7 linked regions of the Homo sapiens genome follow. The protein of the gene in region 7 purifies or fractionates together with the protein of the main gene of each other region. This does not show direct contact. Each region holds a gene or a part of one and is shown on either strand. Other genes may lie near its edges. The genes, in order: MKLN1, ZMYM4, COPS4, PAEP, PCDHGB5, MIER1 and KLHL13.

Region 1 (3,500 bases), on a different chromosome or scaffold from region 7:
ACATTTTTACTTTGAGACTAAAAAAAGGCCTTTTATTTTTGTGTGCTTAGAGATTGCCTGTATTTTACTTTTTTTCTGAAATTTACACCTAATTTAATAATTAAATACACTTATTTAAATAATTCATAAAATTACATATACTCTTATACATAAAAATATTTTGTAAACTGCTAATCCCTGTACTCAAATGTTTATTTTTGTATCTAATAATGATGCTAGTTACAATTTAGTGAGCACCTAATATATGCAAGATGCTTTTTGTATACAGTTTTGTTTAATTCTTGGTACATACCTGTAAGATAGGTATTTTATATATGTTTTGTGGAGGATGAAACTGAGGTCCATACAGGGTAAGTAGCTTGCCCAGGGTCATATAGTTTTCCAGAGGCTTGCCAGGTTTTCTGACTTAAAAACTATTGCATTGTGACTTTAATAACAGTCACCACTTATTGAGTACTTTCTATTCTTCAGGCACTGTACTGAGCATTTAGCATGTGTTCTTTGATATAATAGTCTTCACAAAAACCCTATGAGATAAATATTATTATTCTATTTTAGAGCTAGGAAAAGTGAGATTTAGGGAGGTAAGTTAACTTGCCCAGGTCTAAGAGTTGAAAATGTAAGAGGGGCAGGGCAGGGTGGCTCACACCTGTAATCCCTGCACTTTGGGAGGCCAAGGCAGGAGGATCACTTGTGCCCAGGAGTTTGAGACCAGCATGGGCAACACAATGAGACCCCATCTGCAATAATAATAATGATGAGGAGGAAGAAAATGTAGGTGATAAGGTTCTCATATTGGGCCTTTTGACTTCTGTTACGAAAGCTGTTCATTATTATACATGGCTATTGTATATGTCTAATTGAGATTACAGATAAGCGCTCTAAGGTTAGAACAGCAAGAGAGGGAAAAATAGATTTTATCTTGATGTTTAAGATTTTAGTATACTCATATGAGAACTGGGAGAAACTTTGAAAGTATTTTTTACATATTAGGTAATTTCATTGGTATAGAATGATTCTTATCTTGTTTACATATTATTGAATGACTTAGATAATTTAGATGATAAAATCTGATAGATTTTTAAGTGTGTTTACCTTTTTCCTGTTAGTCTTATTACTTAAAATCAAATAGTACTTAAAATAGTACCTTGTGTCAACATGTGATTGATTCATGGTTCAGAGTACAAGTGTTATGATTTGACAACTAGAATAGAAGGTGAATTTATTTCAACTCTTTTCAAAACTAATTTTAAAATTTCACATTTAAAAATGAATATAGGCTAGGCACGGTGGCTCATGCCTGTAATCCTAGCACTTTGGGAGGCTGAGGCAGGACCATCACTTGAGACCAGGAGTTTGAGACCAGCCTGGGAAACATACCCCATCTCTACAAAAGAAAAAAAATATATAAATATTTATATATTTTTATTACATAAAATATATGTGCATAGTTATATATTATTATGTTAAAAATATGTAAATATATATATATTCTTTTCTTCTTTGTCTCTACAAAAGAAAAAGACAGCATCTCGTCAATACCCCATGTCTAAGAAAAAAATAGACACTTTTTATATCATATATATTAAAATATATTTTATATATCTTTTAATATATATTTTGATGTAAAAAATGCTCTATGTTTATTATCGAATATTTGTAAAATATGGACCCACAGAAACAAAATTTAAATTACCCTTGATATCACTACCTAAAGATTACTAGTCACCCTTTAAATACTGTTTATTATCATTCCAGATCTTTTACTGTAGATGTATGTATTTTTCAATTTACTGTTGTCCTGTTTGCTGTTCTGTATTTGCTTTTTCCTCCTTAACATATAGTAAATACTTCCTTATGTTATTAAATATTCTTCTATATTGTATTTTTTTTCTTTTTTTTTAAAGGGACAGGGTCTTGCTCTGTCACCCATGCTGGAGTACAGTGGCATGATCATAGTTCACTGCAGCCTCGACCTCCTGGGCTCAAGCGATCCTCCAGCCCCAGTTTCTCAAGTAGCTGGGACTACAGGCACATGCCATCACGCCTGGCTAATTTTTTTTTTTTAGATGGAGTCTCGCTGTGTCACCCAGACTGGAATTTAGTGGCACCATCTTGGCTCACTGCAAACTCTGCCTCCTGGCTTCAAGCAATTCTTGTGCCTCAGCCTCCTAAGTAGCTGGTATTACAGGCGTGCACCACCACGTCTGGTTAATTTTTGTATTTTTGGTAGAGACACTGTTTCACCATGTTGGCCAGGCTGGTCTTGAATTCCTGACCTCAAATGATCCACTTGCTTTGGCCTCCCTAAGTGCTGGGATTACAGGCATGAGCCACCATGCCCAGCCAACCATGCCTGGCTAATTTTTTAAATTTTTTTGTAGAGATGGGGTCCCACTATGTTGCCCAGGCTGGTCTCCAGCTCCTGGGCTCAAGTGATCCTCTCACCTCAGTGCCCCAAAGTGCTGCGATTGTAGGTGTGAGCCACTGTGCCCAGCCAAAATTTATTATGGATACATTATATTCCATGTAATGACTTTATGTCATTTTGTTTAATTGGTCCCGTGTTATTAGACATTTAGGCTTTGTGGTTTTATTTTATTTTCATTTGTGTTTCTTGTTATTTGACTATTATGAGTCATGAGGTAGTTTTGCTTTACAGAAATTTTTTTTTTTTTGAAACGGAGTTTCGCTCTTATTGCCCAGGCTGGAGTGCAATGGCGCAGTCTCGGCTCACCGCAACCTCTGCCTCCCGGGTCCAAGCGATTCTCCTACCTCAGCCTCCCAAGTAGCTGGGATTACAGGCATGTGCCACCATACCCAGCTAATTTTTTGTATTTTTAGTAGAGACGGGGTTTCTCCGTGTTGGTCAGGCTGGTCCCGAACTCCTGACCTCAGGTGATCCGCCCACCTCGGCCTTCCAAAGTGTTGGGATTACAGCCACCACACCCAGCCTGGAAAAAAATTTTGAACTCATTGGTGATAAATTCCTAGATGTTGAGTTGCTGGATTAAAGGTATCAGTTTATTTTCCTTCTATCTGTGTAGACTACTCTGAGTTCATTTTGGCATTATCCTTGGTAATTTGGAAGAAAACATATTTAAATCAGAGACAGGTCCGTAGAGATGTCTAGAGGATGCTTATATAATTCAAAAGTGATAATGCTCCCAATAACTTTTTTGTTTCTTCCTTCTCTATCCCTTTACTTTAGCTTTTAAGTGAATTTTGATTTTATTAATCACATATAGTTGAAAAATAGAATATATTTATTGTATTTGGTGTACAGATAATGGTGGTTATGAAAATGGATTTGAGGTCTTGTTACAATAATTCTGTAGGCTCCTGCAACCCAGAATTTGTGAACCACTAGTTTGGAGGCATGCAACTCCCAGGAGACCGGATACTATTATGCCCTTCCTTTTCTCCCTTTTCTCCCTATCTTAAACTGAGATTTAAGGACACTGGCCCTGTTTGGGAACCTTACTGGCCACTGAAAGTTC
Region 2 (3,500 bases), on a different chromosome or scaffold from region 7:
TTTTGGTCATTATTAGAAAGGCTTGTCTCTGCGACTCAAAAATAATTCTTCCATAGTTTCTTTAATATTACTAAAATAATTCTTCCGTAGTTTATTTAATATTACTGTTTTATTTCTTTATGCCTAAAACTTAGATACATCTGTAAAATTTTTTGATGTGAGTTAGGGATCTCATTTTTCCATATGACTACCCTTTTCTTCAAATACTATATCCTGAATTTAAATGTAATGATAAGGGGCTGGGTGCAGTGGCTCATGTCTGTAATCCCAGCAGTTTGGCAGGCTGAGGTGGGCGGATTGCTTGAGCTCAGGAGTTCAAGACCAAACTGGGTCTCTACAAAAAATACAAAGATTAGCCAGATGTGGCGGCATGCGCCTGTTATCTCAGCCACTTGAGAGGCTGAGGTAGGAGGATTGCTTGAGTCCTGGAGGCGGAGGTTGTAATAAGCTGAGATCATGCCACTGCACGCCAGCCTGGGTGACAGAGCCAGATCCTGTCTCAAAAAATGAACCAACTAACTAAATAAATAAGTAAATGTAGTGATATGGAAAGTTGCTTACAATATTACTTCTTAGTATTGACTTCTCATGCACTATAGAACTCATTGTTCTGACTACATAAAACACCTAATTTTTCATTTATGAAAAATTACAGAGCACATGCTATGTGGTCAGCTACTAATGATGAAACGTTGAGATGGCTCACCTGTAAGTTCTTCAGCATACATCTCCTAAGATTTTAGCATCTGTTTTACTATCTGTTGTCTCAATTGATTATTTTAGAAAGTATAGACAATTTTTCCAATTATATTATTGCCTCTACGTTTATTAGCAAACGTTCTTATGATAGAAACAAGCTTTTATCTCCTTCCCTTTGACATTATGGACTCAAATCATTATTTACCCTCATACTGTTTCTAATTTTCTGTTTATTTTTTCTAGCTCTGTGAGGAGGAAGAGTCATAGCTATCTCTTTCATCATTTTATCCCTAGAACCTAGTGCAATACCTACCACAGAGTGGTTTCCTAATAAATATGTACTGAATGAATGAATACTTCAAGCAGTGGGGAGCTATTGAAGAATCTCAAGGGAGGATGTAATGTGAAATGATTTATATTTTGGAAAGGTAATTCTGATGTCATTATGGAAGAGAGCAACTTGAGCAAAGCTCAGAAAAAAAAAAGAAAGAAACAGGGGGTTGCCCTGTCACATCACCCAGGCTGGAGTGCAGTGGCACAATTATAGCTTGCTGCAGCCTCAAACTCTTGGGTTCAAGTGATCCTCCTTCCTCAGCCTCCTGAGTAGCTAGGACTGCATGTGTGTACCACTACACCTGGCTGATTAAAACAAAATTTTTTTTTGTAGAGATGGGCTTTTGCTATGTTGCCCAGGCTGGTCTTGAACTCCTGGCCTCAAACAATCCTCTGGCCTCAGCCTCCCAAAGTGCTAAGATTATAGGTGTGAGCCACTGTGCCTGGTCCAGGAAAGCTTTCCTTTGGGTTCTGTATCAGTTGGGACCTGATTACAGATAATCCAACTCAAATCAACTTAACAAAAGGAATTTATTGGATTCCATAATCCAGAGAAGGGTTGAAGAACCAGCCACATGAAGGATGTAACTGGGCTTCAGGAACAAATAAGAGCAAGGATGCCAGTGCCACTAATATTTTTAGTCTTCGCCTCACTCTATTTTTATCAGTTCCAGTTTGTTTGCTGATGTATCAATTAAATGTGGTTTAGGCATAGAGTTTATAAGGGTATGGTTGCTTCCTGAGTATCCATGTGGACTGAATTAGTATACCTTTGAAGGTATTGTAGAATCCAGGAGGAGACGTGGAGTATTAGAACTAGGTGCTAAGTGGAAAAGATGGATTTGAGAGAGATAAGTAATAAAGTTGACAGAATTTGTCCAGGGGGAAATCTTGAGCAACTGCTGGTTTGGTGAATCTGTTAACCATCTGAGGGAAATATAAGAAGCATATGCTTGGAATGGGAGGGAACATGATGAGTTTTGATTTTAGAGATGCTAAGTTGGAGAACGTGTAGGAGCTAGTTGAATATAGACATCCGAAATCTTATAAGAAAGGTCTAAGCTTAAGTGCTTAGGAAGTCAGTAGCAAAGGTAAGTGTTATGGAGGTGAACAAAATAGCTCAGTCTGAGTGTAAAAGTAAAGAGAACAGGAATCTTGCAGAAAAGCTAACATTGAAGCCATGTGAACAGAAGAAGAGTATAAAATAAATTATAAGGCAATTAAGGAAAGTAAGAAATAAGAGTACCAAAGAATCCAAAGGAATTTTATCCATGAGGGATATGCCATTTAGGAATTGAAAAAAGTCAATTTGCTTTGACCATTAGGAGATCATTGATGATGTTAATGAGAAAAGTTCCAGTGGAAAGTTGGGAGCTGATTGTATTAAGCTCAAAGGGTTAATGATAGAGATGAAGTAGAAGCAAACTAGGTAGAATTTTTTTCCTACAAGTTTGTGAAGGGAAGATGAATGAGGGCATTGTAGGGTTAGGGCATGAATGAGGGCATTGCTTTGTTTTGTTTTGGAATGGGAGAGATTAGTATATATTAGTAGTTTTAAACAGTAAATAGTCTTTTATTCTAGGTTGGATAAAATTTATTTTTATGTGTAAGTATTAACTGCCGTCAGTGTTTATTAGTGTTAGTGCAGAGAAAATGGGACTCAGACCAAAGACCTGAGTGCTAATCTCAGTTTTCCCTGAATAATCGCCATAATAATTATAATTACCATTTTATATTCCCTTCTATTTGTCAGTCATTGTGTTAGTAGGTCTTTTGTACATACTATCACTAATCCTCACCACAAATTTATCTCCAAGGTGAGTATTATGCTGTTGTATAGATAGACTCTGAGAGTTTACTTTTTAGGATTACATAGATTTTCAGGATCATGCTTTGATTTCAACACAGATATGTCTGATTCTGAAGTTGGTGCTCTTTTCTCTATATCACGTAGCTTTCTTTTCTAACCTAAAGTAGTTTCTCAAGTTTTGGCTCCTTGTTTCCTTAACTGTCAGATAGGAATAGTTATATCTGTCACACCTATATCAAAGTGTTAAATGAATACTATGGTAATATCTGTATTTTGTTTGAAAAAATATTTATTTGGTTAAATACCAGACTGACCTTATCATTGTGGTCATCTTTAGCACTATCATTTGTCTAAACAGTATTTTACTTTTTAAGGTGGTGGTATCATGGATACAGAAATGTCTGAAGATATAGACCACAACTTAACTCCTACCCTTGACAGCATGTCTTATGGAATGCCGAATCAAACAGGATCTGAAAATTCATTGCTGGATGAAGATGATTATTTTTTGAACTCTGGGGATCTTGCAGGAATTCCAGTCGTTGGTAGTGACAATGAGGATGAACAGGATTTTAGTTCAAAGGACAATCTTGTTTCTTCAATTCATACTGATGATAGCTTGGAAGTAGAGAGAAGAGTCACACAGCATGAATCAGAC
Region 3 (3,500 bases), on a different chromosome or scaffold from region 7:
ATTCAGGTCACCTCAAATAATGTTTTTGTGTGTCTATGTATTGCACAGTTGAAGGAAATATAGCTTATCTTTTAAGGCATTTGAAAGGAAATTGACTTTGTAGTTTAAATTCAAAAATAAAACCTTCAAGAAAAAGTGACACCTTAGATTCAGTAACAGAATTATAGATTCATTCTTTCTTGTGATGAGCTTGAAAACTTAAAAAATTCTGGTATACTATACTGAAAACTAGATGAAGTGGTACCTTATATAATTATAGATTTAATATCTCTTGTGATAGACTAGAAACTTAAAAAAAAATCTGTGGTATACTATAAAGAAAACCACAAACTATAGTACTATGAAAGAAACCAAGGTATGTAGAAATGAATAAATACACATCAAAGTTTGCATTAGAAAATATAGTACCCTCAGAACATTATTTTCATTTGGTATTGTTGTAGGTATCGTCAGATCCTGGAAAAAGCCATTCAGTTATCTGGAGCAGAACAACTAGAAGCTTTGAAAGCTTTTGTGGAAGCAAGTAAGTGAAATGGAAATTTCATGCTTGCCTTGTATTACTGAGCTAGGACTTTAAAGTTCTCTCAAGCCTTGTTTTGTATCAAATTATCAATATTAAATATGCATTGAGATTGATTGATTTTAGAATTTAAACTGTTTACAACTTGATTAATTTTCAGTGAATTATCTTCAGAATTACAATCCTAATTAAAGTTTTGTATGTTTATTGTTATAATAGCTGATAAGGGACAATATAGCATAATAGTAAAGAGAATAGTTTGGATTCAAATCCTGGTATGCTATTTTATGAGCTGTGTGATCTTGGGTCAATTATTTAACCTCTCTGTGCCTCCTTTTCCTCTTTAAAATGTACTCTGTAGTACATCTAATGTACCTAAAATGTACTCTATAGTACATTACTGTACTACAGGGTAGTACAGTACTGTACTTTGAGAAGTGTCTGCTTATGTCCCTTGTCAATGTTTTAATGGGGTTGTTTTCTTAATGTTCAACATCACTAATCATCAGAGAAATGCAAATCAATGTGGGATGCCATCTAATATTAGTCAGAATGGCTACTATTAAAAAGTAAAAAAATAACAAATTCTGGTTAGACTTCAGAGAAAATGAAATGCTTATACACTGTTGGTGAGAATGTAAATTAGTTCAGCCACTGTGAAAAGCAGTTTGGAGATTATTCAAAGAATTTAAAGCAGAAGTACCATTCAACCAGCAATTCCATTACTGAGTATATATCCAAAAGAAAATTAAAAATTCCACAAAAAGAAACCCCACATGCACTTGTATATTCGCCATATTGCTATTCACAATAAGGAAGGCATGGACTTAACTTATGTGTGAATCAATAAATTGGATAGAAATATGTGCCACATATACACCATAAAATACTACGCACACATTAAAAAGAATACAATCATGTCCTGTGCAGCAACATGCATATGTCTGTAGGCCATTATCCTAAGGAATTTTATAGTGAGTTCACATGGAATTTTATAGTGAGTTCACATCATTAATGATATCTGATAGTGCTTTACAGTGTGTTCTCACACACATTACCTGTCACATAGGCTCCTTTTAATAACCTGTGACTAGAACGTATAGGTACAGGTATCCCTGTATAATATATTGTAAGACAAGTCTCAGGATTGAGTAACTTTTTTTCAAGGACATTTAGCTGGCAGAGCCCAGATCAGAAACTAGGTTTTCTGATACACTGCTCTTACTTGCTTATATTTCCCTGAGTAATACCAGCTTGTATGGTAACTTAAATGCCTAATGACACTTGTAATGAAACTGTTTTCTCAGTCACATCCTGTATTACCCAATAATGAATTCCAATTAATATGTGATTAATTAATTACAACTGCCTTAAAAAAATACTGCCTTAAAAAGTTACTGCCTTAAAACTTAAAAGGTTACTGCCTTAAAAAATCATGGCCTCCGGTGTGAGATAAACTAGCAATGGTTTCCAAAAAACTGTTAGGAGTGGTTTATTAAGAACTTTGCACTGTAGTAGCAGAAGAATAATGCTTTTTATAACTTTGATCTTGGCTGGGCACGGTGGCTCATGCCTGTAATCCCAACACTTTGCGATTACAGGTATGAGTCATGGCACCCAGCCAAGGGATCACTTGAGCTCAGGAGTTCAAAACCAGCCTGGGCAATGTGGAGAAATCTCGTCTCTACAAAAAAATACGAAAATTAGCCTGGCGTGGTGATGCATGCCTGTAGTCCCAGCTATTGGGACGCTGAGGTGGGAAGACTGCTTGAGCCCCGGTGGTCGAGACTGAAGTGAGCTGAGGTTGCATCACTGCGCTCCAGCCTGGGCAGCAGTAAGATTGTCTCAAAAAAACAATTAAAAAACATATATATATATATTTTTTGATCTTTGTATAAGCTTTGAATCCAGTAAACCACCAGGAAAAGCAGTCTACTGTTAAAATCATTTACATCAACTGAACAGTTTTTGAATCACTTATTTTCATATTAACTGCTGCTTTAAGACTTGAATAATTGGCCGGGGCCATGGCTTACGCCTGTAGTCCCAGCACTTTGGGAGACCGAGATGGGCGGATCACGAGGTCAGGAGATCAAGACCATTTTGGCTAACACGGTGAAACCCTATCTCTACTAAAAATACAAAAAAATCAGCTGGGCGTGGTGGCGGGTGCCTGTAGTCCCAGCTACTCAGGAGGCTGAGGCAGGAGAATGGCATGAACCCGGGAGGTGGAGCTTGCAGTGAGCCAAGATGGTGCCACTGCACTCCAGCCTGGGCGACAGAGCGAGACTCAGTCTCAAAAAAAAAAAATAATAATAATAAAAAAGACTTGAATAATTTATCTAAGCAATAGTTTACAAGAATGATGCATTTAAAATGATAGTTATAATAGTAACATTTGTTGAGTGCTATGTACCAGGTATTGTTTAAAGTGCTTTGTGTATATTATTGCATTTAAGCTTCATAACAACCTTATGAAATAGATGTTACACATGAGGAAACAGAAGCACAGAGAAGCATAGAGAAGTTAAGTTTCTTGTCTGAAGTCATATAATCAGTAGTGGTAGAAGCAGTGTGGCTCCAGAGCTTAATCACATAAAATAATACCTCGTAAATGTTTATAAATAATGTCAATACATCTAGTGCTCACTGAAGTTCTTATTTATTGTTTTTATTGGGAAAGTATAAGTGGCAATAACTGTACTGGCAGCACTTGCTTTATTTAAATTTCATGAAAATTATTTTACTGTTTTCTTTTTTAACTCCTTTTTGGAACAAGGTAGGATATAAGCACATAAATAAAAATATAGGTGTTTTTGTGCCTTCACTTTGTAGAAAAATGAGATAAAATTATCAACTTTTAAAACTTTTTTCAATTATTTCTGTTTCTTAGAAAAGTTGTGTTATTTTTACTGTTTTTTAAGATTTTTTAATTAATTAATGAATTAATTAATTTTGAGACAGAGTCTAGCTCTGTTGC
Region 4 (4,061 bases), on a different chromosome or scaffold from region 7:
CTCCAGCCTGAGTGACAGAATGAGACCCTTTCTCAAAAAAACAAAGCAAACAACAAACAAATAAAAAAAACCAAGAAAAAAAAAGTCAGCCCACAGGCACCGAGGTGGACAGGAAGCCAGTTGTCAGCTCCCCAGGGTTCCCAGCCACGGACGTAGCTGCTGCCTCTCACCCACGTTGAGCTCATGTGCTGTGAGACCCACCCAGGTACTGGCACATCATGCTCTGGATGGGGGTGGTGGTGTCCTGTAGGCAGAGAAACAGGAAATTGTCGTAGTCAGTATCGAGCAGCGTGGCCTCGTTCGCCACCGTATCTGGGGAAAGAAGAGAAGAACCAAAAGGAAGATGAAGCCTCCGTCTCAGCAGAGTCCTGTGCAGGTGTGTGGACATCCCACCACACTAAGTGGCTTCCTCATCCACTGACACCATGGGACGTGGCCCCTGCTGTGGACCATGATCAGGGAAGCCAGGGAGGAAAGGGGAGGAGAGGCAATGTGGAGGGCCATGGAGCCCCGGCTGAGGGGGAGAGGCCAGGTGTGCCGTGGAGAGGCAGACACGGCAGGCAGGGAGGCTGTGACCTGGAGAGACTCCAACTGAGAAGTCACGTACGGGTGAGGATGGCGGGAGATGGCACAGGAACAGGGCACAGGGGCGGGAAGAGGGAGAAGAAATGGACCTTGGAGAGTGGCTCGATTCTGGGGAGGGCAAGCAGGGTCAGAAAGGCCTGAGGCAAGTCCCAAGCATGAGAAGCAAACTGTATTTGCTGGGAAAATGTGCCCATGAGGGGATAAGAGGCCCCAGACCCTGACCACCTCTGTCTTTTTAAAAAAATAATAATTAACAAAATAGAACAAAATGTTGCAAATTGTTAGGAAGAATTCAGTGGACCAAGGACATGCTGTAAGCCCCTCTCTCTTCCCCCAGAGAGGCCTGGGAGCTCAGCCTAAGACCAGAGCTGCAGCCCCAGAGTGCGCAGGAGGCAGCCAGGCCCACGGGAACAGCAGCCACTTGCCCACCTGCCCACCTGCCCACCTGCCCACCTGCCCACCTGTTCACCTACCCACCTGCCCACCTACCAACTTGTTCACCTGGCCACCTGTTCACCCACCCACCTGTTCACCTACTCACCTGCCCACCTGTCCACCTACCCACCTGTCCACCTGTATACCTACCCACCTACCCACCTGCCCACCTGTTCACCTAACCACCTGCTCACCTGCCCACCTGTTCACCTAACCACTTACTCACCTAGCCACCTGCCCACCTACCCACCTGTTCACCTACCCTCCTGCCCACCTGTATACATATCCACCTACCCACCTACCCACCTGCCCACCTGCCCACCTGCTCGCCTGCAGCCTCCCTGGCCTTTTGTGAGGCCAGAGTGAACAGTGCAACAAAGCACCTGTCCCCTGTGCCTGGGCACAGTGCAGACCCACATCCAGTCATGTCATGCCAAGAATTAGTGCTTCCCCTGCCCTCCAGGTAAAAGATGCCTCTGGGGTCAGCATCAGGTTGACCGGAGTAAACACTCTGACTCCCTGAAGCAGAGAGAGTGGGGACAGGCCAGGCCCCACTCCCTCATGCCCCAGCAGAGCCGCCTCTGGGAGAGCGTGGCTAGCATGCCAGCACTGAGCCAGCCCTTGGGGCCTGGGGACACTCACAGTTGATCTTGAACTTCTTTGGATTCTCAGTCTTCTCTCCAAGGACCTTCTTCTCAACACAGCTGTTGTTCTCCCTGAAAGGTGGTGACAATAGGATGAGTGGCCACTTGAATTGGAGTTGCCTTCACTGTCACTCCTAAAATCAGGTCACCACGGGAACTTCCCCGGGTCCAAGGAGCACCGCAGCCCGCAGCCGCCCAGACCTTCTCCTCAGTCTGACCTGGGGCTGCACTGTGTGGTTGGCTGTTGGCCCAGAGCCTGGGGCAGGGGATCCAAGGGGACAGGGAACGTCTGGAGCCCTGGTTTTCCACCCCACCCTCATGGAAGGGCCACAGTGAAGCCCCTGGCTGTCAGAAAATGCCTGGGGCTAAGTCCAGCTCCGCCCAACCCACCCAGTCCTGGACCCCTGAGGGGGGAGACTGAGCCCCCGCCCAGCCCGTCTCAATGATGAGAAACCCACCATCTGTGCAGAACGATCTCCAGGTTGTCCTCGGGGGTGGGCAACAGTGAGGTGATGTGGACCCTCAGAGGGGCCTTCAGTGTCGCCATGAGGGAGATGTTGTTGGTCGCCATGGCCATGGAGTGCCAGGTCCCTGCCAACTGAGGGGGCCTTGGGCTGCACGGCGGTCCCACCCCACCATGGCTCTCGTTGCACCCGGTGCAGACGGGGCTGAGTCTAACTGGGATGGGTACAGTGAGCATTGGATGGTTGTCTGCTATCTACCAGATCCTGGGCTATGAAATTTCCTGTACTTAAAATGACCAGTGTGTGCTAACTCAGGAGTGTTCCAAAGTCCAAATAATGAGTCACCTAGGATGCTGGGAAACCAGAGAGGCCACCCTAAAGATGGAGAGCAGGGCTGAGGGCTTCCTGACGTCATGGCGTCCATTCTGTGCTTCCTGTAGGTTTCTGAGATCCTGGGCTTCCTGCCTGCCCGCAGCTCCCACCCGCCCCAGGCCTCCCACAGTAAAGTGCCCGCTCCCCCAGCCTCAAACCTTTGGGAGCTCCAGGTCCTGCTTGGTCTGGGGGATGTCCATGGCCGGGACACCACAGACCAGGGCCACGCCCAGGGTGAGCAGGAGGCACAGCATGGCTGCGGCTGTGGGTGGCTCTGAGCTCTGGAGCCAGAGGGATGCTGAGGCAGTGTGGGCTCAGGGGGCCTTATGTAGGAGGAGGGCAGACAAGATCCCCGCCCACAGCCTCGCCATGTGATTCCTCGAACCTGTGACTCATCCTTGGCCCCTGGGCAGCTTCCTCCACTGGGGCAATGGGAGGCTCTTCCCTGCGTCCACGCGGGAACCTCCTCTGTGTCCGGGCTGGGCAGTTCTTGGCAGGGCCTCAGGCGGGAGGGGCCTGGGTCGGGTCCAGGCTGGCAGCGGCGGGAGCACCTTCTGGGTTGGGGCTCCTGGACAATGTTGGGTCAGAGGCCAGCACTGAGGACAGCTGTGTCCAGGGCAGGGGTATGGCCTGTGGGGCAGGCAGAGGGCCTGAGAGCCCCATGGCTGCCCCAGGATGCCACAGACATCATGCCAGTGGGTGACTGACTGCACGGTCATAATCCTGACCTGTACCTTCCACTCAGACATCCCCAGGTGTGCACACCTGTGTCCCTCAAACAGCCAGCCTCTGGACAGGTGCACACTGCCTGTTAGCACTGTTTCTCTCTGACTCACAGGCAAGACTGGGTGGAAATGGGAGGCAGTGGACTTTCAGACTTTGTCCTACAGTCTATATTGGATGTACTTTTTCCCACAGGGAAGCATCACTTTGTAACTTACAATCGAGCCCGCATCTCACTCCCTGGAGAGCACTTGAGTCCTGAGGCAAGACACGGGTGTCCACTCCCACTCCCCCATCCATCAGAGCAGGTCATTCCGGCCAGAGCAGCTAGGCAAGAAATGGTAACTAAAGGCAGGCAGATTGGGAAGGGGGAGGTATACCTGTCTCTATTCGCATATAACATCATTGCCCAGGTACAAAATTGCAAGAACTCTACAAAACCCCTCCTAGAACCGAGTGAGGTCAGCAAGGTCAATCGCACAAAAATCCACCGTGTTCCCACACAGTGTCAAGGAGTAGACAGAACCCGAAACTGGAAATTCAGGATTTGTAATCACACACACAGCATGTAGGCAAAAATCTCACCAAATATGGACAGGACTTAAACTCTGAACCCAAGGAAGGGAAATCAAAGACCTAAGGTAAAGGACAGGCACAATGTGTTCATGGGCTGGAAGCTTCAACACAGCAAAGGTGTTAGCTCTCCTCAACTCAACCTAGAGATTTAATGCAATTCCTATCAAATTCTCAGCAAGATATTTTGTAGGTAGCTATAGACATGTGTGTGACACACACACACACATATATACATATATACATTTTTTTGAGGCCAAGTCTT
Region 5 (3,500 bases), on a different chromosome or scaffold from region 7:
CCCTTGGATGGTATCCTCTGCCAAGGAGTAAATAACTCTAGAATTCTCATTGCTATCAGGGTCATAGGCAATCACGGAGAAGATGGAAGTACCTCTGGCGTTGTTTTCCGGGAGGTAGACTGAGTAGGAGGCTTGAGAGAAAGCAGGTGGATTATCATTGATGTCAGTCACTTGCAGGGTGATGTGAATTTCTGTGGACAGGGGCGGAGTTCCTCTGTCTGTTGCAGTCACCGTGATATTATATTCTGAGGCTTTTTCTCGGTCAAGAATTTGGGCCGTCAACAATCTGTAATAATCTTCTTCTGAATTTTCTAATGTAAAAGATAGATTCTCCTGGATAGAACAGACAACTTGACCATTCTTCCCGGAGTCTCGGTCATGAGCATTGAAAAGAAGAATTACTGTTCCCTGAGGTGCGTCTTCTCTCACTGGGCTAAACAGAGATGTAATGGTCACTTCAGGTCTATTGTCATTTACATCTTCCACCGAAATGAGCACTTTTGTCCACCCTTTCAATCCCCCACCATCTTCAGCTTGTATTTCCATTTCATAAAATGAACATTCTTCATAATCTAGACTTTTTGCTGTTGATATTTCCCCAGTATTTTCATTAAGCTGGAATAGCAGAGATTGTTTTTCATTAATTTTCCAGAATTTGTATGCCACTTTTCCGTTGATTCCCTCATCCAGGTCGCTGGCTGTTGCAGTAAGCAGCCAGGTGCCTGGGGGCACGTTCTCAAGGACTTTAACTCGGTAAATCCGTTGAGCAAAAACCGGGGCATTATCATTTGTATCCAACACTGTCACATGGATGCGCACTGTGCTGGAGCGACGCGGCTCGCCGCCATCCGAGGCCGTGAGGACCAGGTGGTGGGCAGTTGCCTCCTCCCTGTCCAGGGCGCGCTCCAGCACCAGCTCTGGGTTTATGGCTCCATTGTCTCCAGTCTGCACGTTCAGGGAGAAGTGGTGATTGGGGCTGAGCTGGTAGCTCTGGAGGGAGTTCACGCCAACATCCGGATCAATAGCTTCTGGAAGTGGATAACGTGCTCCAGGAACCGCGATTTCGTTAATTTTTACTTCCAGACTTTCGGCCTGGAACTTTGGGGCGCTGTCGTTAATATCAGTTACTTCTATTTCTATTCCGTACAGTTTCACTCTGTCTTCAACCAGGACTTTAAAGTTCACCAGACACCGCGGGCTCTGAGCACAGAGCTCCTCCCGGTCTATCCTACCCGCGGTGACCAAGGTGCCGCTGCGCGGGTTCAGAGAGAAAAGCTGCGTCCTACCTCTAGAGACGATGCGGACTCGGCGCTCCGCCAGCTCCCGGGGCTCCAGAGCCAGGTCCTTGGAGATGTTGCCCACAATATAGCCCTTTTCTGTCTCTTCAGGCACTGAGTAGCGAATCTGACTGGCCCTGGCCTCCCATAGCATCCCCAGGAGCGAGCATAGCAGGACTAATCTTCCGCGGAGCTGGCATTTGGTTGGAGCTGCCATTGCTGCCTCGCTTTGGAATTTTCTCAAAAGGATCTCTGTGCGCGCTGCTTCATCAGGTTCTTTCTTCCACCCTGCAAAGTATGGTGATCTTTTCCTTAGAAGAAAGAGGCTGAGTTTTGCTGCAGCCTGGGAGCAGGTTTGTGGTATCTGCCGGGTTTTGTGTAGCCGCAGAACTGGAAATCCGGATGGAGTCCTGATTTTCGCTTAGAGTTGATCAACAGCGGCGCTCAGAGTCCTAAGCCGTTACTACACCCACTGATGTGTAACATTATATCAGATGGCTGATAAAGAAAACACTACTCTCTTCTAATTATGATTTTAGATTTCTCCAATTGTTTCTTGCATTTGTATTTCAAAAGCAATCTATTTTTTAGATATCTGAGTTGTAAATAAAGTGGAATAAAATTTCTGTAAGTGTATTATAAAATCACAAACCATTGCTTAATATTAATTTATTCTTATTCTTGGTAGAACTTTGCACTCTATTTCTAGATATGTAAACTATTATAATTTCCTTTTTATGATGCTTCAATTTTTTCTGTGTATCTTAACAATTTTCTGAAGTAATTTTTATGTGCAATCTTGTTTGGAAGTACATTCATTTTTAATTTTTATACCTATATATTTGTAAATGTAAAATATATAATTGTATTAATACATATATAAGGATAGATTATCCACTTTGAAATTATTTTCTGGGGTTTATTTTGATGATAAAATTCCTGGAAAAACGTTTATTTTAAATTTTTGTATTATAAAAGTAATATTAATTCAGCAATAGTTACAGATGTTCTCGCCTAATATTGCTAAATATTAACAGGATTAAAGTTGGAAATTTTCACATTTTTGTAATTGCTTAAACTTTTCTGCTATTTCAAAAATGCTTAGTTTTTTAATGTGAATATGTAATGCATGCACAGACTGTGTTTCAATGATTCAAATGCATATACACTGAAAAGCAAGTTTCTATTTTAATCCTTCATCAATAAATTATGCAATTTTAAAGTGGTCTTAAACATTATTCTAAGCATCACTTAAACTTATATAATAATTTGGGAAAAAGAACACAAAATATACAACAAAGAAAACTACTGAAAGGTTAAAAGTAAGTGGTATTATAAGAAATCTCAGCACTTTGTAAGGAACCCATTTACTGAATCACATACTAAGGGAAACCAAGCAAAAGACTTATACCATGTAATGGGAGCTTTGTATGTACACAAGACTAGTAGTTTTTGTCTTAAAAATGGAATAATCCTGTATTCACCTTCCATCCTACAAGGATGTTGAGAAAACATCCAGTCATTTATATTTAAAGCTCCAAACGATAAGACAAATCCGGTGTCTTTTTCCCCTTCTTCAAGAATATGTCAGGATTCCGAGCAAGAGAAATTCAGGCAATAGCATTTCCTTTTTTTTGTAAGTTTCTTCTGGTAATTATATAGAGGTGGAAAAGGATTTTGCATCCAAGAAAACCTGGATAAACTTAGAAAATTATTTGGATGATTTGGACCTTCTAAGTTCAGTGAATCAGTCTCTCTCTTTCTCTCTCATACACATAACATGTAGTATTTTTCTTCTTCTTCCTCTCCTTCTCCTTCCTTTTTTTTGAGATGGAGTTTTGCTCTTGTTGCCCAGGCTGGAATGCAATGGAGTGATCTCGGCTCACCGCAACCTCCACCTGCCAGGTTCAAGCAATTCTCCTGTCTTAGCCTCCTGAGTAGCTGGGATTACAGGCGCCCGCCACCACACCCAGCTAATTTTTGTATTTTTAGTAGAGACGGGTTTTCACCATATTGCCCAGGCTGGTCTTGAACTCCTGACCATGTGATCCAACCGCCTCGGCCTCCCAAAGTGCTGGGATTACAGGCATGAGCCACTGCACCCAGCCAACATATAGTATTTTTAATAAAATTTTAGGAGATTCAAAAAATCATAAATCCATTAGGTAGGAATAAGAAAGCATATATGAGGAACATAAGAAAGAGATGAAAACTACCAGTGAA
Region 6 (3,500 bases), on a different chromosome or scaffold from region 7:
TTCTACATAATTGTATTCTCATGAAATGATTTCCTATAAAAACTTAGGGGAAAAAACTGATTTAGAATAAAGATAATATTATCTTACTACATATTTCATGACAGTTTATTTTTCTTCAAGTGTTTTTCTTCCTTTTAAAGTAGAGAAATTTAGGTGTATTTATGAATATACCTAAAAAAGGCTAAGAGGCAAAGAAAGTAAAAAATGGAAACTAAGGGAAAGACTATGAGAAACAAAAAGATGACCATGAAACAAACATTTAAAAACAGGGCAAAGAAAAAACAAATACACCCAAAGTCAAGTAGTACATGACACAATTACCATAGTATATTCACTAACAACAGGGACCCTGCATTGCTAAACTAATAACTTACAACAAAATCCATTTACTGTTGAAAAGAATTTCAGACTAAATGAATTCAAAGACCAGTTTAAAAAAGAGGATTTTAGGTAATACCTAAAATAGTAAAAATTATATTCAAATATTATCAACCAGTAACACTTACTTGTATCAAAATATTTACATCGACGTGGGCGGATTATTTCCTGGGCATCTTGAGAAGCAACAGATTGTGATGGATCATCATTGGAAGACTGAGTTTCATCCTCCTGACCTGATGAATCCTTTATATTCTCCTCCTGTGGAATAATAAATTAAATTTCTCTAAGATGTAAGGAAAACAGTTGCAGATGAAAGACCATAGCATATAAATTTTGTTCTAATATATGCAGAAGACTAAAATGAATATACTAGATGTAGTATCATCCTCTGGGTTGGTTCCTGCAACAGGAAAAAGTACATTAGCAGAAAAACTGGTATAATTCAATCTGCAGTTTAGTTAATAGCACTGTACCAAGATGTTAACCTTAGCAGAAGTTGAGGTAAGAGTATACAGGAACGTTCTATACTAACTTTAAACCTTTTATAAATCTAAAATTATTTCAAAATAAAGTAAGAAAAATAAACACAAACTGCCAATTAGCCTTTATTATTTAAAAGCAATAGCATTTTTTTAGAAAGTTGGTATAAATTAATTAGAATAAGCACTGGAAAAAAAGAAACCTGAAATGACAAGACCAAACTGTTACCTCAGGAGTAAATTACAGGGGATTTCCAATTTTTATATTATGTATTTCTGTAATATCTTAATTTTTAACACTTTTAAAATCAGGAAAAGATTATAAAGACAAGTAATCAAAATATATTAAGCAATTTTAACTTCAACAAGAATAAAGACTACAATCTTAAATATATGTATATAGACTTACTTTATTTTCCCCACTACAGCCACTGTTGTCATCATTATCAGCATCTTCATCATCTTCACCTTCTTCTTCCTCTTCTTCCTCTTCCTCATCTTCTTCAGGTAGTCGAACAGTACTACCATAACCATAAAGGCTGAGAAGTTCATGAATTGGCATGTCGCCTTCCTAAATAAATCAAAATAAAAGGTAATCTCTGAATCAGTGATATTTCTGATTCCCAGGCTATAATCCACAAATCTGTGGAGTATTCATTCTATAGTGAAGAATAAAAGCTGTGTTACGAATTCTCGGATCATAAAAAGTAAAACTGAAAATATTTCTGAAACCTAGGAATATCCCAATCTTTTAAGTATTTCTATAAAATGAACCAGTTATAATTGCTGACAACAAGATCTTTAAGTATAATTAAAAAGTGGCCTTGGTCTAACATGGACTATTCTTTTTGCAATCAATTCAGTATATGCACAATGACAGTTAACGCTATGCATGGATGCCCACTCTTAATAAGAGTACCATACTTAACTTGAGGGTGGAGAAATAGAACAATGAGAAATAGACTATAAGTTAACAAACCCAGAAAGGCAGACGAAAATTCAGAGCTCAGCCCGAACACATGAAAAAAAAAAAAAAAAAAAACACAAACAAACCAGTAGTAATATACAGAAATGATAATGGACTACATTAACCATATATTCTTCTCTATGGTTATCTCCATTTACATATAAAATCATCTCATGAAATCCTTACCATCTATCATACGGACTTGTTATATTATTTCCATTTCATAGATGCGAAAACAGAGGCTGACAGGTTAAGCATTTCTTCACAAATCACACAAGTTACAAGTAGTAGAGCCAGATTTAAACAGTCTAACTCCAAAAGCCCATATTCATATCAATACACCATGGTGCCTTGGGCAGGGACTTCCCTCAATCCCCACAAAAATCAGACCCTCCGTGGATGAAAAAGAAATGTCCATACACAATGAAATGAAATCAGCTTTCTATACAAACTACTCACTCTAACCAGTAAACAAGAAATGCACAGCATCAGGGAAACATAACAGAATTCTGATTATAAAAAGAAAATTTAATCCAAATCATGTGAACATATTATACACTCATGCACACCCACATACAATGCACATGGTCTGAAGCAAAACAGTCAGAAAACAATCAGTTTAGAAGCTAGAAAAAAAAGGGTAATCATGAAATAAGACATGGTTTATGTTTCTCCAGCAGTCATGGAAAGAAGTAAGTCTAGCTCATGTGTTAAACACATTGCTACAATGGATATGGGTAAATCAGACTGGATTAGATGATACAATTAACCTGCATCACTCAAAATCCATGTGTGGGAAGAAATTAATGATTATCATTTGAAAAGATTTTCTTAGGAAGAACTAGGAAGAAACTGTCATCCAAAACTTCTATTTCCCATTACAAATGGATATTCTGGTTATGAATGAGTTTGTGAATCTATTTCTGAAAGATAAATCAATTCCAAGACCCCTAATGATTTGCAGAAGCTACAACCTGAAAAGCGGTAACTTTATCAAGGCAAGGTATTGCCACTCTAGCTAAATAACCAGCTGGCAAACAAATGACAGCTCTTACACTGTGTCTCTCAAAGTACAACACCAACAGTGCTTTAAGTGTTCAAGTATCTGGTCCATGTACCAAGAATCTGGTACAGGACATTGGTATTTGGGAATCTGGAGAGTCAATACTCAGGAACTAAAACAAAACTTCAAAATAAGAGATAGAAGTGTAGTAAGAGAAATATAATGAAAAGGCTAGATTTATTTTTTGAGACAGGATCTTGCTCTGTCACCCAGGCTGGAGTGCAGTGGCATGATCACTGCTCACTGCAGCCTCAACCTTCAAATGATCCTCCCACCTCAGCCTCCCAAGTATCTGGGACTATACATGTGCACCACCATGCCTGGCTAATTTTTGTATTTTTCATAGAGAAGGGTTTCACCATGTTGCCCAGGCTGGTCTCAAACACCTGGATGCAAGCGATCTGCCCACCTTGGCTTCCCAAAATGTAGGATTGGAAACATGAGCCACCGTGCCCAGCCTAAAGCTAGTTTTATATACAAGAATAACAAATAGCTGTCATAAAGTATCTTCTATGTGTCAGGCATTTATGATAGATGCTTTGATTTCACTGTCTTTTTCTCTTGCAACCATGAAAGCAGTGTCAACACACACAATTTCATTAGATCTTTA
Region 7 (3,249 bases):
AATCCTGTCTTTGGCTTCAAGCAGATGAAGATGATATCTGGAAGTCTTTTTAGACCCCGTTTCTGATAGGATGTGTGGTTTAATTACTTCTAAAAGCTTCCCATTAATGGCTTTGCTAATGCCAAGTACCAATCAATGCACTAGGTTTTCTCTTATGTGGCGAGAGAGAGAGAAGGAGAGAGAGAGAGAGAGAATAATAATGTAGGATTTTGCTTGTCCGTTAGGTAAAAGTCATGCCAAAGGCAAATAGAAATGAACATTTGAAAAGGCATCCAGTGACTGGAAATAGTAAAAAAAAACAACAGTACTGGGGCATGTGGCAGTTTAACTTGTTATTAATTTTAGAAATAGGGTTTAAAAGAAATAGAATTGGCAAGGATCCAGGCCTAAAGCAATGAACAAAGCCAACAAAGCAGTAGGTAAAAATGAGAATAGTAAAAGCCTTTGAAATAAGACTGAAAATTCAAAGCTAAAGTAAGTGGAAAAGGAAGTCAGTAGAGAGATACAAGAAGTGGCATGATATAGGTGTGCTTGGAGGAGAAAAGCATACTTTGCGTAGTGAATTTGATGATGAAATGAAATTATTGAATAGAGCGGAAAAGTAGTCTCTCTCTCTCTCTCTCTCTCTCTCGCTCTCCTCTCTCTCTCTCTCTGTGTGTGTGTGTGTGTGTGTGTTTTGCCTGTCACCATGTTATTTTTTTTTAAGTAGAGAATCTCATTCAAAGGTTGATTCATCAGGATTGCATTTGGTTGCAAGTAGCTAAACCTAATTCCAGTGGCTTGATCAAATTGTCCTACTCAATAAACTTCTGCTTACCCGTCGCTGCCCAGAACTATATCATATGGTGGACCAAAGCTTCAAGGGAACCTGCTAAATTAAATTTCGTTTTTAGCTTGGTGTAGTGCTTCCCTAAGCAGTGTTGTGGTTCTGTTAGTTTAAAAAAGTAGGGTTGGGGGACGCAAGAAATTGGATTAGCAGTTGGCAGTGTCTGCAATAAATAATATGAACTTTTCAAGTCAATCTAGACCTCATGCTTTTGATGAGTTCTCTTAACAGCTTCTCTGCCTTTTAAAAAGTGATTACATTTTCCATCTTTCTTGGTGACATTGTTCTGTTCTTGAGGTTATAACAGACTGATTGAAAGATACTTAAGTGAGTTGAGGTCACTTCTCCAAAATACATTATGTTAAAAGATGATAAATACATTACTGACAGGAAGTATTCTTAATAAAGATCTTCATATTATGCCGCCAACCATCTTCAGGTTAAGAGTAGTACTGGCTGCAATGATGGTGGGTATATACGAACTATTAGCTTTAAAGTATAAATGTAGAGAAATTATTATCAGTGTCCATTTTGTAGTCTGTATATGAATTAAAGCAGTGGGCTTCAGAACATAAACCAAGAAGTGTGTATATTTTCATTCTCAATGTAAAAGTTTGCTTCTTATGTATTAACGTTTGTTTCTATCAACATGGGGACCCAGAATTGAGGAGTTTTTCATTTCTTTTGATTTTTTTCATCCTTTCTTCCTATGTTTTTAGAGCAAAGAAAATGGAGAAATGTCAAATTATAAATATGTAAGCAGATTACAGAATAAATCTTAGTGATTTCTGCAATGACAGAAATTTGTTAGATTCTTACACTATCTAGTCTAATGTAACATGTACTAATGGTTTATATTATTAATATAGTCTCAATAATTACTGTAAGAGCTCCCCCAAAGTCTTACACATATCTATCATAGCTATAATAGATATGTTTCAAGTGTTTGGATATTATTACTGTTCCACTTAAGAGAAAAATAATTAATTGCTAAATTTGAAGTTAAAAATAATTTTCTTTTCTTTTTTTTTTTAACAGCCACAGTAGAATGTTACAATCCAAGAACAAATGAATGGACCTATGTTGCCAAAATGAGTGAGCCCCACTATGGCCATGCTGGAACTGTGTATGGAGGAGTGATGTATATTTCAGGTAAACAAGTATCATGTGAACACAATATAATATATAAGCTTTTAACTATATGGTTATCTTTCCATATAGTGGTAGTAATAATAATAATAATTCAGGCGTCAGGAGTTTGAGACCAGGCGGGCCAACATGGTGAAATCCTGTCTCTATTAAAAATACAAAAATTAACTGGGTGTGGTGGTGCACGTCTGTAATCCCAGCTACTTGGGAGGCTGAGGCAGGAGAATCTCTTGAACCCAGAAGACGGAGGTTGCAGTGAGCCGAGATTGCGCCACTGTACTCCAGCCTGTGTGAAAGAGCGAGACTCCATCTCAAAAAAAAAAAAAATCCAGAAAAACGGAGAATCAAAATATAATTTATGTTGATTTTAGAAACTATTTTTGTGTGTATTTGCATATGAATGTCTTGGGCATTCTGTAAATTTATAAGAGTACTAGTAAACCAATCCTGTTGTAAGGTATAACTTAGAAAAAATTGGAAAGCATTCAAATTTTGCTTTCCAGTCCCCATGCTCTGTATTCTGATAAACACCATTCATAGTTTCTGTAGCAACAATTAATTCATTTTATTTAAGATTTAGCTAAACTATGTGAAGGAGTGTATCATTATATAACATATAAGTTCTCCTATGCATAAAACGTGCTTCCAATATGCATAATAGTACATAATAATGTTCATTCTCTCTTTCAGTATAGTCCATAATATGGGTTTCCTTCTTCCTTAGCATTATAGGGGGATTCTACTATGGTGTCATTGCATAAATATTTCTGTGCTGATTATCTGTATTTTATGCACATGAAGATATATTTTTCTGTTAAAAAATTCTGAAATGGCTATAGTTTGTTCACAGTGTCCCAGTAGCAACTTTCATTCTCAAATTGTTGGTGTTTAAATCAATCTACTGTAGAATTTCTTTCTTTTTTTAATGCATTTTCTGCTTTCATTCTCCTGTAGAATTTAGGAAGAAGTCTCACTTTAATGTAATGACCACCTCTGGTATTGACATTTAACTTTGTTAGTCAGGTTATTATCATTTGGCCCTGACACACTCTGCCTGGGACAATTCTTCCCCATATGAAGGCCTGCCAGTGCCAGGCCAGCAGTTACATTACTAGAGACCAAGGGTGTAAAGGCACTATTTGTGACCTGATTGACCACTGCCTTATGAAATTTTTAATCAATAAGAATCAATGAAAGGCCTATAGTATATGATTGGCAGGTTTCTGGTGTTAAATTCATGAGCAACTACAGAATGTCTTATATTGGAAGAGCCA

The links.
Region 1: the proteins of KLHL13 (region 7) and MKLN1 fractionate together in Homo sapiens (co-fractionation; one large-scale study listed by BioGRID). This does not show direct contact.
Region 2: the proteins of KLHL13 (region 7) and ZMYM4 purify together in Homo sapiens (affinity purification with mass spectrometry; one large-scale study listed by BioGRID and IntAct). This does not show direct contact.
Region 3: the proteins of KLHL13 (region 7) and COPS4 purify together in Homo sapiens (affinity purification with mass spectrometry; 2 studies listed by BioGRID and IntAct, with this or other methods). This does not show direct contact.
Region 4: the proteins of KLHL13 (region 7) and PAEP purify together in Homo sapiens (co-immunoprecipitation; one large-scale study listed by IntAct). This does not show direct contact.
Region 5: the proteins of KLHL13 (region 7) and PCDHGB5 purify together in Homo sapiens (co-immunoprecipitation; one large-scale study listed by IntAct). This does not show direct contact.
Region 6: the proteins of KLHL13 (region 7) and MIER1 purify together in Homo sapiens (co-immunoprecipitation; one large-scale study listed by IntAct). This does not show direct contact.

Annotation. Positions count from the first base shown.
Region 1 is NC_000007.14:131,330,876-131,334,375, forward strand, and holds part of MKLN1 (muskelin), read left to right. Parts: intron 1-3,500. UniProt on the Homo sapiens protein: Component of the CTLH E3 ubiquitin-protein ligase complex that selectively accepts ubiquitin from UBE2H and mediates ubiquitination and subsequent proteasomal degradation of the transcription factor HBP1.
Region 2 is NC_000001.11:35,355,709-35,359,208, forward strand, and holds part of ZMYM4 (zinc finger MYM-type protein 4), read left to right. Parts: intron 1-3,113; exon of another isoform or gene 3,114-3,216; coding exon 3,217-3,500. UniProt on the Homo sapiens protein: Plays a role in the regulation of cell morphology and cytoskeletal organization.
Region 3 is NC_000004.12:83,045,183-83,048,682, forward strand, and holds part of COPS4 (COP9 signalosome complex subunit 4), read left to right. Parts: intron 1-443; coding exon 444-523; intron 524-3,500. UniProt on the Homo sapiens protein: Component of the COP9 signalosome complex (CSN), a complex involved in various cellular and developmental processes.
Region 4 is NC_000009.12:135,560,495-135,564,555, reverse strand, and holds the start of PAEP (glycodelin isoform 1 precursor), read right to left. Parts: upstream 2,801-4,061; 5' UTR 2,755-2,800; coding exon 2,659-2,754; intron 2,263-2,658; coding exon 2,123-2,262; intron 1,737-2,122; coding exon 1,663-1,736; intron 313-1,662; coding exon 202-312; intron 1-201. UniProt on the Homo sapiens protein: Glycoprotein that regulates critical steps during fertilization and also has immunomonomodulatory effects. Four glycoforms, namely glycodelin-S, -A, -F and -C have been identified in reproductive tissues that differ in glycosylation and biological activity.
Region 5 is NC_000005.10:141,400,947-141,404,446, reverse strand, and holds part of PCDHGB5 (protocadherin gamma-B5 isoform 1 precursor), read right to left. Parts: intron 1,670-3,500; exon of another isoform or gene 1,495-1,669; coding exon of another isoform or gene 1-1,494. Other genes in the region: PCDHGA9 (protocadherin gamma-A9 isoform 1 precursor), read right to left, coding at 1-1,494. UniProt on the Homo sapiens protein: Potential calcium-dependent cell-adhesion protein. May be involved in the establishment and maintenance of specific neuronal connections in the brain.
Region 6 is NC_000001.11:66,955,990-66,959,489, reverse strand, and holds part of MIER1 (mesoderm induction early response protein 1), read right to left. Parts: exon of another isoform or gene 1,432-3,500; coding exon 1,270-1,431; intron 640-1,269; coding exon 507-639; intron 1-506. UniProt on the Homo sapiens protein: Transcriptional repressor regulating the expression of a number of genes including SP1 target genes. Probably functions through recruitment of HDAC1 a histone deacetylase involved in chromatin silencing.
Region 7 is NC_000023.11:117,900,562-117,903,810, reverse strand, and holds part of KLHL13 (kelch-like protein 13), read left to right. Parts: intron 1-1,864; coding exon 1,865-1,978; intron 1,979-3,249. UniProt on the Homo sapiens protein: Substrate-specific adapter of a BCR (BTB-CUL3-RBX1) E3 ubiquitin-protein ligase complex required for mitotic progression and cytokinesis.